3 separate regions of the Homo sapiens genome follow, and all the other regions are linked to region 3. The links come from fine-mapping of genetic effects on gene expression. A gene starts in region 3. Each other region holds a variant in brackets. All regions are shown on one strand. Distances are between the middles of the regions. Region 1 overlaps SNX19 (sorting nexin 19). Region 2 overlaps SNX19 (sorting nexin 19). Region 3 holds the start of SNX19 (sorting nexin 19).

What was found.
Region 1: its variant is fine-mapped to the expression of SNX19 in whole blood (INTERVAL, PIP above 0.99).
Region 2: its variant is fine-mapped to the expression of SNX19 in whole blood (INTERVAL, PIP above 0.99).

The regions. Positions count from the first base shown.
Region 1 is chr11:130,874,569-130,880,014 of GRCh38, forward strand. It overlaps SNX19 (sorting nexin 19), which reads right to left. Exons shown (of 11, transcript NM_014758.3): 10 at 5,056-5,143; 11 at 1-3,986. The coding sequence ends at 3,854. Among named protein-coding and RNA genes, the nearest start is that of LINC02551, 15 kb to the left of the region's middle. The variant C/T (reference allele first, on the strand shown) is at 2,297.
Region 2 is chr11:130,893,412-130,898,857 of GRCh38, forward strand. The region is part of intron 8 of SNX19 (sorting nexin 19); the gene reads right to left. Among named protein-coding and RNA genes, the nearest start is that of SNX19, 20 kb to the right of the region's middle. The variant C/T (reference allele first, on the strand shown) is at 2,092.
Region 3 is chr11:130,914,153-130,919,598 of GRCh38, forward strand. It overlaps SNX19 (sorting nexin 19), which reads right to left and starts at 2,327. Exons shown (of 11, transcript NM_014758.3): 1 at 114-2,327. The coding sequence starts at 1,787. RefSeq lists an enhancer at 2,070-2,119 and a silencer at 2,240-2,519.

The DNA.
Region 1 (5,446 bases), 40 kb before region 3:
CCTACTCACGTACTAATGTTATGAAATAAAATAAATTTTCCTCATAATTTAATTCTTGTCCAGAGCATCCTGATTCATATAGCCAGGGACCATAGTTACACATATTTTTACTTCCTCCAGGACCTAACAACTGGTGTTGTGTGCTATGAGCAAAGGAAGAGCAGTAGCTGGAAATGAATAACCTGGGTAGGACACAGGAAGACTCAAAAATGTTCTAGGCTATGCAAATCAAAACCATGAGATAGTAATATCACCTAATACCTTTTAAGATGCCATTATGAAAAAACAAAACATTACAAGTGTTGGAGAGGATGTGGAGAAACTGGAACCCTTGTACATTGTTGGTGGGAATGTAAAATGGTCTAGTCACTATGGAAAACAGTATGAAGGTCTTCAAAGAATTAAAAACAGAACAATATATGATCCAGCAATCCTACTTCTGGGTATTTATCTAAAATAATTAAAAGCAGGGCCTCGAAGAAACAGTCACACTCCCATGTTCACTGCAGCATTGTTTTCAACAATCAAGGCGCGGAGCCAACCTAAATGTCCCTCAATGAATGAACAAAGAAAATGTGGCATAGCCATACAATGGAATGTTTTCAGCCTTAAAAAGAAAATTCTGTCACATGCTGTAACGTGGATGAACCTGGAGGACATTATGCTAAGTGAAATAAGCCAGTCAAAGGACAAACACTGCATGATTCCACTTATATGAGGCGTTCAAAGTAGTCAAACTCACAGAAGCAGAAAGTAGAACAGTGATTGCCAGAGGCTGGTGGGAGGGGAAACGAGGAGTGGCTGTTCAATGGGTATAAACTTTTGGTTATGCAAGATGAAAAACTTGTAGCAGTCTGCTACAAAGCACTGTGCTGCTTCTAGTTAATAATGTACCGTCTCAAAATAAATAAATAATGTACTGTACACTTAAGAGGGTAGATCTCACATTATGTGTTTCTTTACAACAATAAGAAAATCACCTTGTAAACTGGAAATTTCCAAAATGGAAATTGGAGTAGCTTGTATTGATTTTAAAATTTATACATGCTCTCACTCATAGGTGGGAATTGAACAATGAGAACACTTGGACACAGGAAGGTGAACATCACACACTGGGGCCTGTTGTGAGGTCGGGGGAGGGGGAAGGGATAGCATCAGGAGATATACCTAATGTAAATGACGAGTTAACGGGTGCAGCACACCAACACGGCACATGTATACATATGCAACAAACCTGCATGTTGTGCACATGTTCCCTAGAACTTAATGTATAATAATAATAAAAATAAAATTTATACATGCTCCTAGGCTCAGATTTAGGAATTTATTTTCCATTTAGGTTTTATTAAGTCTAATCCAACAATGCAAAAATGAAACTGTGAGTTATATGTGATGAAAAAGTATAGCTTTCTTGAATTCAAATAAGCAATGGCAAAGATCACATTTAGAATTTGACAGAAAGAACACAGCATCCCTGCCTCGTCTTTTTTATAGATAGTAAGAAAAGGGAAAGTAGTCTTATTTCAAATATCAAAATTCTGACTTAAATGAATAAAATTTAGTCACGAGTAAATACAAAAAACAAGCAAACAATAAAACCTTCCTGGATCAGCACAGGCCCAATTCTTCCCTGCCTTTTATCACCCTGTCAGCTGGGAGTATCTTTTCTACCTGTGGCTCTCTACCAATTGTTACTCTCTTGTTGTCTGAACCTGCTAGCCAAACTTGGCAGGTCGTTTTCAAAGCCAGATGAGTTCTGATTGTTCCCTTGGCAATATCCATTATTTCCCTCCTGGGTAGAAGGAGGATCTGAGGACAGCTTATCTTTTTGGGGTACGTGGAGTAGAGGTGGGGACTCTTATATAATACGAAATAAAAATAAGTTCTTTGGGCTGGAAGTGTCAAAAGATTCCTTAGAATTTATAGCCACAGGGATTTCATGGTGTGTCTGATGTACTGATTTTGTGCCACATTTGAGCCAGAACTGGCAGCAGATTCAAAGCAACACAGGTGGCTAAGTACACATGAGGGGAAGGTAGGTATGGGGAGAGAAAAGTGGCATAAAACAAGGCTGTCCCCCTATGCTCATCGAGAATAGGATCTTAGCCCTCACTGAAGGAGCTTAATGATCAGCTCTAATACATTGGCTGGACTCCTGCAGGTACTCACGGAAAGTAGAGATGCTGAGCTACCTTTTCTTGTCAAAGTCTAGGGCTGGAGATGCTTCAAGAACTTTGGAGCCATAAAGTCACTGTAATGGTCAACTTTTAAGGCTAGAAGAGGCCATGAGACATCT[C/T]ATTCATCTCCTTGCCTTTGGGCAAGAATTGCACACCTAAGCCTCCCGAATACATCAGACACAATTTAGGGTTAAAAGCCTCCAGAGGGGCAAAAAAGTAAAAAGATTTTACAACTTTCTTCCACAAACCACTTTAATTGTGTGCTCATCACCGACTTCAGAATCTAAGAGAACTTTGACACTTGTTTTTGACACCCCATTGCCTTCTCATCAGTCTAACTCCAAGACCTTCCTCCGAGTGGTAGGCTCTGGTAATTCAGCGAAAGCAAGGCGCTAACAGGCGAGTGTGAAGCCAAAGGGCTCCCAGTGACATCCTTGACATCTTTTTGCCAGCTATTCACATGCATTTAATATACAGCACTTCCCTGTGACTGTCTGCAGCCTTTTCTACCAGCAATTCCTCCTGATTTATCCTTCTCCAGCAATTCCCAGTTGCCTTGCCTTTCTAATAGATGTTGCAGTCTGACAAAACACCTTTGCCTTCATGCTGGTGTTGTTAAAGGACTGATTATAACCGTAAGGAATGGGAAATAAGAAGCTATTCCTTGTAAGTTTGCTAATCTTATCTGTTCAGAATAATAAAAGTTCTCTGTCAAAGACTTAGGAAGGGAGATTTCATCCCCCAGCCTTGCTAGTCCTACTCTTTGTGCATTCTTAAGACAGGAGGCAAGTGCTTTCCATTCTCCTTGGAAAAACTGAGGCTGAATATGCAGCTTGTCATGCAGTTTTGCTGAAGACAGAGAGAGGGTCAAAAATTCAAAAACTCAATTGCTCTAGGGCAGGGGGTTGGGAGCAAAGCCAATAAATAAAATGGGTGGTATAAATGCCTTTCAGGAAAGGGTGTGAAGGGTGGGGTGGATTTACCAGAAGCTTTGGCAGTCAGCTTTGAAGTCTTCTGGAAAGGAAAGTGTAGCCTCCCAGGCAAGCAGCCTCATGACATCTTCCATAAGGCTGATGTGTTGGGAAACAGCAACACATGAGCAAGAAGTTCCTTGAAAAATTTTCTTCCCTCCTTCTTCTTCTGGAACTGTTGGGAAACTAGATTAGACCCAGGAGTCTGGTTTTTGAGAATGGCCCTGAATGAATTTTTAGTTTCCGGGTAGGAACAGAGAGCTGAGAAGGTTGTTTTCTCCTCCAAGGAAATCTGGCCACAGTTTTTTTCCTGTTCTATCTAGAGCTTGTGTGCTGGTGGATTAAGCACATGTGTGCACAGGGCCAGGATTCTGGCAAACAATCTCAGGGAGGATGGCAAAAGGAGAAGCAAAAGGGGTTCATTCCTCTACCTCACAGCTTCTTTTCCCAAAGGAAACAGGATCTACTCACCAGCAACAATCCCAACATCACAAAAGGAACAGGGAAATAAACGTGCATACAACTGGGACACACAGACCCCTGTCACCTGCTACAAATGGAGCAGAAGTGGGAGAGAAGTGAGCCACCGAGAACCTAGGCCTTCTTAGCTGTAGCCTACTTGAAGAGGGCACGGGCTTCCTGACTGGTCTCTGGTGGCCGAGTAACTCTACTTCCCTGACCTGGGAAGAAGGCGTGAATAACCAGCTAAGAGGAGACACCCATCCTCTTAGAGTTGCCTGGGGTATCTGAGGCAGAGGTGGTAGCAGCAGACTCCTCAACAGAGGCACTGAGATCCAAGAATTCCAGGATGATGTCCCCAAGGCAGTAAATCAAATGCCTGAAACGAATGGACAAAAAACTTAGGGTCTGGCTCAATCAGGAAACACAAGATCCTGTTTATGACATTTATTTTCTCCTCCCCCATCACCGACACCCTAAACTTCAATAGCTTGATGAAACCTCTGCCATGAAATTAATGTTTTTTGAACTAATAAAGCCTCTGACCCTAATAAAGGCAAGAACAGTTTTTATATAAGACTAGTTTTATATAAGACTAAGTTTTATAAAATTCCATTTCTCTTTACATAGTTACATTAGCACTGCTCTGAAGAACTGTGATAACAAATCCTTGAGATGTCAGGTTACTAGACACTTTCAGAGCTCCTGACTACTGCTGTTTCTCATAATTAATTACCTTAAATTTATAGGCTGCCTTACAGGCAGTGAGGTAAAGCCAGGATCCTTGAGGAAGTTAACGAACACAGTCTACTTTGGGGTAGGGTTTGAGTGCAAGGTTACTCAATACTTCCAGAAGAGTAACAGCCCAAGGGATGGAATCTACCTCTTCTGGATTATTCTAGGACTCTTCACCCAGCATTTCTGGTCCCTTTATGAAATTCCAACCTTACTATCTTGTCTACCTGATATGAAGCAAAGACAACTCCTGGTCTTGACATGAATCACAGCTTTGCTATAAGGCCAGGGCTCATGGTGAACATCTTTACATGGTCTGTGATACACAGGCCAGGGTACGCTCTTGGAGCATTCACAGGGGCTGGCAGATGTTGGAAAGAGCACTGAGCAAGTATGCTGAACAAGCCTGGAGGATAAGAGGTCATTTTCAGCAGCTCATGTGGGGGCCTGCATAGAGTTCTTCCAAACACAAATGGTGGGTGGTCCAAGAGTGATTTCCTAGCACATGACGACCTGCTCAGAAGCCTGATGGTGTGGATTTTACTTAGAGTGTGTGGATCTGGACGTCAAACTCTGTAGTCAGTGCCCAGAGCAAGTAAAGACTACAATCCTATTCTTTGGAATGTGGGCTTTTCACTCAGAAACCTTGGATACCTCTGAGACCAGAGGTGGCTGTAACTATGCTGATGTTGGAATAACATTTTCCCACTTACCTGTTGATGAGGGGTTGTTGTAGTGACTCCAGGACTAGACCCCAGCTCAGCCGGCATTTGTTCACCCCAAGAATTTCTACTACGAGATCTGAGGAGGAAAAAACAGATGGAATTTGCGTGTTATCACTGAAGTTTTAGATTCTAAGGACAGTCTCTCCCCAGGATCTCTGCCGTTTTTACATAGGTTAGGTATTTCAGGCCTACCTCTAAACCATACAGCCAAACTAAAATCCTCACAAAACAGGAAAAACCTGAGAAAAATATGTTTCTCAAGTTAGGTGTCTACATAAGAATGGGCTTCAAAAATTATTTTGTAACCTGTCACTCAAATGCAGGTACTCCTTCCAATGTAACAGTTTAGGTTGGCAAACAGAGTTATAATAATAAGGGT
Region 2 (5,446 bases), 21 kb before region 3:
TATGAGAAGCAGATGCCCAAGATAAACAAAGAGAAAAAACACTGAGAGGGGTGTAGAGGAGAAGGAAAAGTGACTATCATTAACACCATCACCTTGGTGTAGAAGAGCTACCCAAAAGTATTTCCAGTTCCCTGTCTACAGGCTGAAATGTAAAACCTTTCCAAGTAGAAGGCCATCTATCCCGTTATGAAGGACGTAGGGACACCGAAGTGGCAACTCCAGAATCTCCACAGAATAGGAACTTTGGGAGCACTGACTATGGGTAGAAAACACAGAGGAGTAATAAATAAAACTGGAAAAACAACAAAAAGGAAACCTGGGGGAGAGAGGAGGCAGGTGTTGAGGAACTTACCTTGATGCTGCATTTGCACACCAGCCTCCCTCCCAGGAAGGCTGAATCCTCTCCGAGAAATCTTTCGGGGCCAGCATTATATTAGAGCTAAAGTATATTTCCCACCAATTTACCCAACTCCCTCCCTGCTCCAGTACCAAATAGCTCTACTTCTCCAAAGGGCACTTGGAGAAGCCTGCAAGGACAGAGGTAAAGATCAAAAGTAAGCAATAACATATGGTTGCTTCTCCAAAACCAAGTTAATGGGGGAGAGCCAAACGGTCTCCATCCATGGCCGAAAGCAATAGGGAATGTCCTTGATTATGTAACAGGTTGATAAGATTCCTAACATCGGGGCTATTCAGCACTGACAATCTCCATCTTAGTGAATACATAATGTATAAGATTTTAGGATCACAGGAGACCCTGAATATAGGTCCAAGTAGTTTATACAGAATATTAACAAAATTCTTGCAATTCAGATGTCTAGCTGGTCTCATCACCACAGACTCTGTTCTGCTCACTCTGTTCTGAATGAATCAGCTCCAGCACTGAATTTTTAACGGGTGGGATCCACTCAAAGGGGCAACTTCTGGTCATCCACACCACTCAGAGAAGCAAGCATATGCTGAAGACGCATTAGAGCAGAAGGAAGAAGGGTGAAAGATCAAAGAAACAGGGCTTATCTAAAAGTCACTGGCACTAAGGAGTAGGCAGATAAGTGGCCTCTAAACCGTAGAGCAAGCCAGGGAATGGCTTCAATATACTGTATCAACATCACGGCAGGGGACCTATAACTGCAAAACAAACAGGTCTTCCTCAAAGGACAGTGAATGGTATTGTTTAACCTGCAGCGCCACCTGGTGCCCATAGAGAGAATTCCTGTGCCCACGCCATGCAGCAGCAGTTTGGTAGGCTTTTTGTCACCTATTTGAAACAATAAAAGCAACACACATTCAGAAAGAAGCTGGCTAAAAATATTCCAGGTTGCTTTTTATTTGAAAGTAGAATGCCCCTCCTCCTGTTTTAAAAATGTCTTAGTGTCTAGAATATTATTTAGCCTAAACCAGTCTAAATGACACCTATCTCACAAGATCTAGCTGTTATACCTTCCTCTATAAAGCCTCTCTAACATTTACCTCTAAATTATCTCTTATCCCCCCAAAGAACTTCATGCACTAGGCTATGATTTCTATTTCGACAGTAACAGACAAAGGAAGTTAAGTGGTTTGTTCTAAGTCACATAGCCTCAAAGCAAGATCTGATTTCAGATCTGACTTCAAAGTCCAAGTTCTTGCTTTCCATGTGGAAGGAAAGAGGTGGAGAAAGTACAACAGCAGGAGATGCTTCCAGAGAGGGCAGGCTCGGTGGGGCTTCATACTGGGAGGCCCAGGTTGTGGAGGGGCGCTGCACTCTTTGGAAAGGAGAGAGCCATTAGAATGGGAGATGGCCTGAAGGGCCCCCAAACCTCTTTGCTTAGGCCGTACCATGGCTCTGGGAATCAGAATTCCCCAATTAACTGAAGATCTGGGTATGCCCTGTGTGGAGGGAATGAAAGACTCAGTTTCCATTTTGCTTCTGGTCCCCCAGCACTGTTGAGGAAACCCTAAGATTCTTAATAGTGATAAGCAGAGGGACTGCCTCCAGTAGAATGACGTGTGATCTTCTGTGTTCATTTATTTGACACAAATTTACTAGGTGCCTTCTATGCATGGGGCTGGGTGTTGAAGATATAATGGTAAATAAGACGCAGTCCCTGC[C/T]CTCAGGATGCTGACATACATTCTAAAGCTGTCATCAAAATGTCAAAATCTTAGGTTCCTGTTTGCAGTCACAGATGGGCAAGAGATGCCAAGAACCTGACTTGGAAAAAAAGGCTCTGAGGTTTAAATACCTCATGATATTCTGTTTTTTGTTAACTTTTACAATGAGCAATTTTGTACCTCTATTTGAGTATATGAGACTTCAAGAGCACACACACACAGAAATGCAAATGCAATGCTCAGGCACACGGCTGTCAGCTGCCATCCACCTGCTACAATCTCAAAGATATATTCCAGTAGAGACTGTCACTATGTGACAGGAAAGCCATGATGTCTTCATCCTAAGATGGGTGTAGAATAAGTGATACCCAAGAAATATGACAGGCAGACCACTCATATGACAGGGGAAACTGCTAGGGCCCATCCTGGCCCAGTCTATAGAAGTCAAGAGCTTCCCTTTGGCATGGCCTAATGGAAGAGGCCTGGGACAAGCAGTACTCCTTCCCAGGGAGCCACAGTACAATCTGAGCAAAGCCATCAATGAGAAAAATTAATTTCAGCACCTCTAAAAACAGCCCAAGCCAATGACTGGAGAGCCAGAAAATAAGCGAGAATTCTGAAGACTGAGCTTGAGTTAATTTTGTATGTGGGGGTCTTGCAAAAGTATGCGTATTTCTAGAAAAGCTGTGCATAGGAAGAGATGGGGTATAAGACATAGCCAGGCATCAGAGCTGAACTGGAAGAAAAAGTTACACAGCAAAGGAAAAAACTGTAATCTATGCTTCCTGAGAAACTCTGAGTCTTAACGTTGATAATCTTTTCCTGATTGTGAATAGCATATAAATAGAGATAGCTAAGAGACAATCTCTGGCTCAGAAGTGCTTTAAAAATAAAATCAGAATATGCAGACAAAAATAATTTATATGCTACCATCAGATGCGTGTGTCCCTGAGACCAGCTGGATGGAAAGCAAGAGAGGCTAGATGGGAATACGGCAAGGGAACTTTCAGGTGAACCCAGTTCTAGTGGCCACTGCTTTGTGGGAAAGCTTGCATGGAGGGGAAGCATGGCAGAGCAGTGGGAAACACATGAGCTCTGAGGCCAGGATGACTTAAGTGGAATCTTAAGGTGTGGTTGTTACGACTTTTATGATTTTGGGAACGTTATTTTATCTGAATGTAATTTTCTTCACTTATGAAATGTAGAACTACATGTCTATCTCATAGAATTGAACATTAATATAAACAGTACATAGCTGCTTTCCTGGTATTAATATTGTAATAAGCGTCAGTTCCTTTCCCATTGCAATTACTCGTGCACTTTTGGTGGCAGACCTGGAGGTTCTCTTAAGAAATAACCAATGTCACAAAGAACTGTTATCCACCTGCTAGTTAGACATGCCCACCAAGAAAGAGGCCCTTGAAGTAGAGTTCCACAGAAAGCGCCTTGATTCTGGAGCGTTCTAAGAGAACAGTGGAAGCAAGAGGGTTCATGGTCAACCTTTCCCAACTGTCCTTAGGGGAGGTGGACGTTGCGCCTTGCAGCACAGCACTCTCCAGTGCTCCCAGACTCTGCCGCAGCTCTCCTGACCTTTCCTAGGAGATGGTTTAGAGAGAGACATCTTCTCTAAGAAAGTGATTCCAAGGTCTGGTGTAAGGTCTAGAGCTTGCCATCAAGTTTCTCCTGGGTGCCCTGCTTGTTGGACTCCTTAAACCTGCACACCCTTTCTTTTCTTCTTCCTCTCTGGATACTTCCTAACTTTACACACTTCACGCTCCCCTCTGCCAGAACCTTTCCCCCTGGCTTTCTGCCAAGCCATTCCATTCCCACATGCCCCCAACACTCACACACACACACTCTGTCTCTATCTTACACACACACACACAGACACACACACACACACTCCCTTTTTAACTGAGAAATCCTGACGCAGATGCCAGGAATGTGTCTGCTGCCCTTTTGACACAGGTCTGATGCCATCGTTGGGGCCATGGGGAGGGCAGCGCCGCGGACGTGGCATTCACGCATTCTGCTGCTGGCATGGTTCCTATTTTTATCGTGGCATTGCTCTGGGTGTCCAGGCAGGGCGCCGGTCCAGCTTCTCATTCCTTCACTTTCCATCAGGACTCCACACCAATCCTACCCCTTACCTTGGCTGGATCTTCCTGCCCCAAACCCCCTACCATCAATGCAGCACAGTGTATCTCTCCTCTTTCCCTCCAACCCAGTCTAACTCTGAGTACTTGCCCAGTTTGCTAAATCTGATTCTGATGTTTGCAGAGATATTTTCAAGTTTCTTCTGTTTTCGGGCATGAGCAGAGTTTGCACAAGCCGGATTTGCTCCTTGGCTCAGAGTGCTACCCGCTCTCCCCTTCCCCTCCCTTTGTCTCTCATTCCAAATAAGGAGTGCTTCTTGTTACATAATTGGATGTTCCCAGCACAGAAGCTGACACATGAGGTTAGGCGCACATGCATGCAAGACTTCCCTTTGACTTAACAATGCCTTTTTTGGGCATCTAACTTCTCTTCAGCTCCCCTCCCACTTCTCTCCACATCATCAACAATCAACGGAGATTTATAAGCCTGGCTCAGATCAGAGCTCTTCCAACTTTGGCTTAGAAGGAGGGGTTATGAGGTCGAACTTACTCTGTTTTTTTTTTTTCCTTTGCAGGATAGAGAGTGTGCTTATAATTTGACAGAAGTCTATGGCGTCCAAGGCAGTAATGTACACAGGTCTTTTAAAGTTGCAAGATGGGTATACAAAGTTGGAAGCAGAGGAATAAACTTGCCTGCTTGGGGATAATAATACTGGAGGTTGGAACATGAGGACATTTTAAGGAGGAGATGCACTCAAATCTGGTGACTACAGCATCCCTGATGGTCAAACTGCAGTGAGTTCTAAATAACTAGAGAAGTGGCAGTACCACGTGTGGCACCAACACCAACTATCCTGCTCTTTTAAGCACGGAACTTAAAGGAAGAGAACCCAAGTACCCTGCAAAAGCATATGGCTCAGCTACCCGTGGTTTCAGGGAGGACAAACATGTAGCCTCCTAGGCAGCAGTCATGGGGATGGGAGGCAACGGGACCTCATATCATGCCTCTTGTGGGAGATGCAGGGGGTACAGTGGAGAGGTGCTGCAGCTCTGGAGATGTCAAGTTTCCAGCATATTGGCTTACCAAAGCAAATAAAGCTGAAGCATGCAGCAATGCATACACCACTTTTTAAAATTAAAACCTGCAACTGTCCCAGGGATAGTAACATGGGCTGTCTTTAGACTGCAGCACTGCCCTTAGGTTAGCTGCAAGTGTGTAGATACGGAGATGCAGTTTGGATTCTACAAACTGCCTGATA
Region 3 (5,446 bases):
TGAAAGAACCACTTCAAACTAACAGCATCTCTCCCCCAAGAACATTTGCTTCATGACTGCTTTCCAAACCCACTCCTAGCCCGGGTGAGCACCCACAGCTTTAATCCTGTTACCTTCACAGTATAGAGTGTGTATGGGTGGAATCCAGTGCCACTGTGCTCTCGGGCTGTAATGGTGCCAGTGATACGAAGGTTCTGGATGATAACTGGACCATCGGGACTGCTTAGGGGCTCAAAGCTGAAGGTGGCTGAGCTGAGAGGACCAGGTGGAGAGGAGGAAAGCAGAACTGGTGGCAGAGTAGGATCAAGGGAGCTCACATCATTGGTGAGATCCTTCTCTAAGCATGACGGCCGTGAGGGGCAGGTCTTTTCTGGCCCCTCCAGCAAAGCTGTAACAGAGGCGGTAACATCTCCTTGTTCTATCTCCTTGTCTGCTGTGTCAATATGGATCTCTGGGCAGGAATTCAGTGTGGAGACCGGCAGGCCTGTCTCTGTTTCTGTCCCTGGACCCTCCTCAGCCTCTGCTCCTTCAGATGCCTCACCATCTTTGGGTTCCAGAGCCTGGGAACTCTCTAGGGCACACAGGGCATCCTGAATCCTGTCAGAGAGAAAGCTGCCTGGAGTCATGAGCATGATGGTTTCTTTGCCCAGTTCAGACAGCGGAGACTCCAGCTCTGAGTCTTCACATAAGAACAGGGGACCTCGAACATTTGGCTGTAGGAAATGAGATGAGTTGTTTCCTACTTTTCTTTCTTCACACATCCCACCCAAATCTCCCTCTACAGCTTCGTGGCCTTCTTCAACCTCTGGAGAGGGGCCTGCAGAACCCTCTGGCTCACTGTAACTTAGGAATACTGGGGCTGCTACTGGAGAAGCTCTCCCTTCTGGAAGCTGCTCTACCTCAGCAATCAGTGGCAGAGATGTCGGCACTGAGGGCTGTTCGGGGGCACTGGCTGGGCAGGGTGCTGGATCTCTGGCCTTGGAAAAGATACCCACGAGTACAAGGTGGATCCAGTCAGGATCTGACAGCCTGCTGATCAGTGGTAAGATTACATTGCATGTGATGAGTTCGACCACTACATGGCGTCCGGTACGAGTCTCCAAGTGGGGCTTGGGCACCAGCCCTTGAAGCAACAAATTCACAACGCCACGCGTATAGGTGACTTCAGCACTGGGGCTGTGCACAGCAGGATGTGGGGCAGTCGCCCGGCAGTAAGCCTCCCAGAGGTGGGAAGGCTCAACTGGACCATTCTTCCCTGCAGTGGCCTCCTTTGCCTGAATGTAGCTCTGCAGGTGACAACCGCAGAGAGTCAGAACACTCTGGGCAACAGCATGACTGTCCATCACGCTCATCCTTCTCCGAAGCTCCTGGACCAACCCTTTCATGGCTGCCTCCATTTCTTCCTCAAAGGCTGGCTCCTGGCTCACGGAACGGTACCAAGATAACACAAAATCTCGAATAATCATCTGGATGGTGCGGTTGATCTCCCGTTCCAGCTGCCTTTCTGCCTCAGGGCATGGAGGACAGGTGGCCAACGGGATGAAGCGTTCCAGATGCAGTCGACCTGAAGCCACTCCAGCGAGGCTGGAGCCCAGCCATCCTCCCAGCACCACTAGCAATGCCGACAGAAGGCACAGCAGCCACACGTTGACCAGAAGGTGTATGACCAGGAGCCAGCCAAGCAAGACCCCCACAGCCATCAGCTTCCGGCTACTCAACAGGTTATTGAGGTGACAGCTCGATCCAGCTGGAGTTTCCTGGAACGGTGGCACTGTTTCTGTCTTCATGGCTGAACGGACAAGGTGGCTTCCCCAGATGACAGCCCTCAAGATTTTACTTCAGAGTTAGGGAAGGGGGGCATGAACTGTGTCTCAGATATGGGGCGATCTGGGTGCTGTTCAGGGAACCGGGGCTCCAGGCCCTCAAAGTCCTACAGGCACTGCAAAGCGACAGCTGCAGCTCCGCGTCTCCCCATGGCTACCACTAACAGAGCCCTCCAACTCGCCCCTTCCAGCTGAGGTGTGGCTTTGGAGGAAAACTCTGTGGCCTTCACACTGCCCCAGGCGGAAGGCCTCTTCGGGGCCTCGGGGCGGGCGCTGCAAGGCCCTGGGGCCCACGGACACTTACACACGCAGCGGGCAGCGGCCGGCGAAGACTGGGTCACACGCCGCCGGGAACCGCGCGCCCACACTCAGCCCCGACCTGAAGTGGACTCATCGCGGTCCTCTCCGGGAGCCTCGGCCCTCTGCCGCCGTAAACCTGGGCGACTGCGCTCCGCAGCCGGGCCTGTGTGAAGGCTGACCGCCGGCCGGCCGCCGGCGACAGCTTCCGGGTCGACGTCGACGGGAGCGAGGCATGCTGGGAGAGCGTCCGCGCGCGCCCCGAGGAGCGGCGCTGCCCGGCGCCCTCTGCTGGCGAGGAGCCGCCCTGACGGCCCTGCGCGAGGTAGTCTCTGAGCCTGAGCGTGAGCCTGAGCGCGCACGGGGCGCGTGCTCGCCAAGAGCTGGCGCAGATTTCCGAAGTGCCACGAAACAGCCGCCGCAGCAATCACCGCTAAGACCCAGACTTCCAGGCGCTTTAAAACGCGTCCTAGTTCTGGTTATTAAATGAAGCCTGTCCTTTACTGCTTAGGCACGCTGTCAATAATCCGGTTTATTTTAATTTCATGGAGGCGAAGTTTCATTGGCCTGATGTGTCTTAACATTTATCCGGTTTCCCCTAGAGCCGGTACCCCGCGTCCCCAGCACAAAGACCCTCATTTGTTGTCAGGAATTGCAGAATATAAGGCATGAAACGATACAGAGATAGATTTATGTTGTACATTTCATATACTGTATCACAAAATCAAATTTGTGATTGAGGGTTATTTGCTGGTGGCATTACACAAACAATCAAATATTTTGAGCATCTGCTGTCTTCAATGTGAGAGGCAGCGTGGACGAATAGAAGCAGACCTTGTCCTCCAGGACCTCCTGCTAACTGGGGATGCCAGCGCTTTGAACGCGATTGGCTATCTAGTAATGCCAGTCAGCGTGCGATATAGTAAAATACAAAATCTTATAGGAATTCAGGGGAAGGAGAGATCACTGTGGGTTGCAATGGTTAAGGAGAAGCTCACAGAAAAGGTGCCTTTCTGCTGAGTCTTCAAGGATGAGGGTTTCTATTTCCCTCTATCTCTTCTCGCCTTATCCTCCCCAAAAACATAGAAAAGGAAAGCAGAGATAGAGGTGTCCTTTCAGATAATCCTGTAATATATTTGCTTTGGAATATGCTCTATGTTGGATTGTTTTTGGTTTTAGCAAATTAGACTTCACTTGTCTACACAGGAACCTATAGGAAGACAAAATACCGGAAGCACTGACCAGGTGTCAAAAGTGTTAGTGTCAGTTTTGCGTGAAGCCAGCTTCCATGTCCACCTTGGGCCCTAGGAGCTGTGCCCGCAGGGTGGGTCTCCTTTCCATTTAGGCATAGGATTCGCATCGTTTGCACAGAGCTGCTCATGGTTGCCCTTCGTCCACCTTCTCTGTGCTGTGAGCAGTCTTTCATCATCATGGACTACTCCCTAGATGTTTAAAGGAATCTTCAAACAAATCCCAACCCAAAACTCTGCCAACAAGAAGTGCGTTGCAGCTTCCTGTCTCGTCCATTGCTGCTGTTGGGGCAGAGACTTCCTTTGAATACGAAAGAAGCCATCATTTAGATGTGACCCGTAGTTTACGATTCATCACTTCTAAAGCAAATGGTTTGATTTAGGATCAGTGTCCACTAAGCAGACTGGGCACTCCCGTGAGATGGCAGAATGTGAATCCACGGTTTCACGGTCCATACCTTTTCACTGCTGCCTGCCTTCCCGCAGAAAAGGAACCCGAGAAGTGGGCTCTGCCCCTCTACCTTCCCAGACCATTCTAATGTCCTCAGGAGCACTTAGAAAATGGCAACAATGCTCTGGAGAAAAGTCCCTGCCACCTAGTTGGGAGCTAAAACAGAAATGTGAATGATGAAGGGACTACCGACGGTGCTGAAGACTTCCTGTGGCAGTTCAAAGAGAAAGTTTACTTGGCAGCATAATCTGGAGTGTTCAGGGCAGTAAGGAAGTGACCTTGCAAGTGGGCGCTATGCCACCTGACCAGATGGTCTGGAGCATCAAGGTAGCCAAGAGTGCCTTCCTGATTCTGAAGCGGGTTTGATGGACATGCCCGTGCACTTGTCATTTGGACGGGTGTGAGCTCCTGCCTGGGGGTCTGGGCAGACCCTGGTCTCCAAACAGATTAATCACTGGGAGGAGGTGAGAGTCAGGACTGATGTGCCCTGGTGTGTGTATGTGGGGTGGGGAGACTTGGCCACACCACTCACCATCTGGAGACGTCCTTCCTTCTTTCCTTTTCCCTATTTCTCAAAACATTAAAGGCATAGTGCTAGAGTGTTGGAGAAAACAAGACAAATAAGATACAATAATTCTCCTCAAGGGACTCTCAGTCTAGTTAAAGGAGAGACACATAAATATATAAACGTAATGAAACATGATCACGTGTGTAATGTGATGTGTTCTGATGTGTTGTAATAGAAGTGCATACAATAAAATCGAAACACAAAGCGGGTGGTCAGCTGTGGAGGGGGGTGGCTCATAGACAGTTTTCCCTTAAGTTGGGAAATGAAAAAGAATTGAGTGTATTTTAGGAAATGTTGGGTAGCGAGAGCAAGGGGCAAACAGAAGGAAGGTCTTTCAGGCAGAGGCCTGCTCATAAGAAACAGGCAGAGACCATGAGAGCAGGGGGGCCCGTGACATAGGCCCTGCCAGAGCCAGCCCGCACCCCACTTGAATTTTCTCTCAAAATAGAAGACCAGGAGGCTTCCTAAAGAGAAGCTCAGTGATGGGGCAAGTGAGTGAGAAGAGGCGATGGTATGGAATTATTGCTGTGGGATATAGAAAGGGAGCTATCGAAGGTCAGGTAAAAAGATGAAGTGGGGGCTGGGCGCAGTGGCTCATGCCTGTAATCCTAGCACTTTGGGAAGCTGAGGCAGGCAGATCACGAGATCAGGAGTTCAAGACCAGTATGGCTAACATAGTGAAACCCCGTCTTTACTAAAAATACAAAAAAATTAGCCAGGTGTGATGGTGTGCTCCTGTAATCCCAGCTACTCGGAGGGCTGAGGCAGGAGAATCGCGTGAATCCAGGAGGTGGAGATTGCAGTGATCCGAGATTGTGCCATTGCACTCCAGTAGCCCGGGCAACAGTGCGAGACTCCGTCTAAAAAAAAAAAAAAAGAGAGAAGGTGGGGCTGAGGGACCTTTTTGTAGTGGCACCAATACATATGGTTGAGTTATTTTCTCTGGAGGTGTTTAGTATTGTATTAGTCCATTTTCATGCTGCTGATAAAGACACACCGGAGCCTGGGCAATTTACAAAAGAAAGAGGCTTAATTGGACTTGCAGTTCCACATGGCT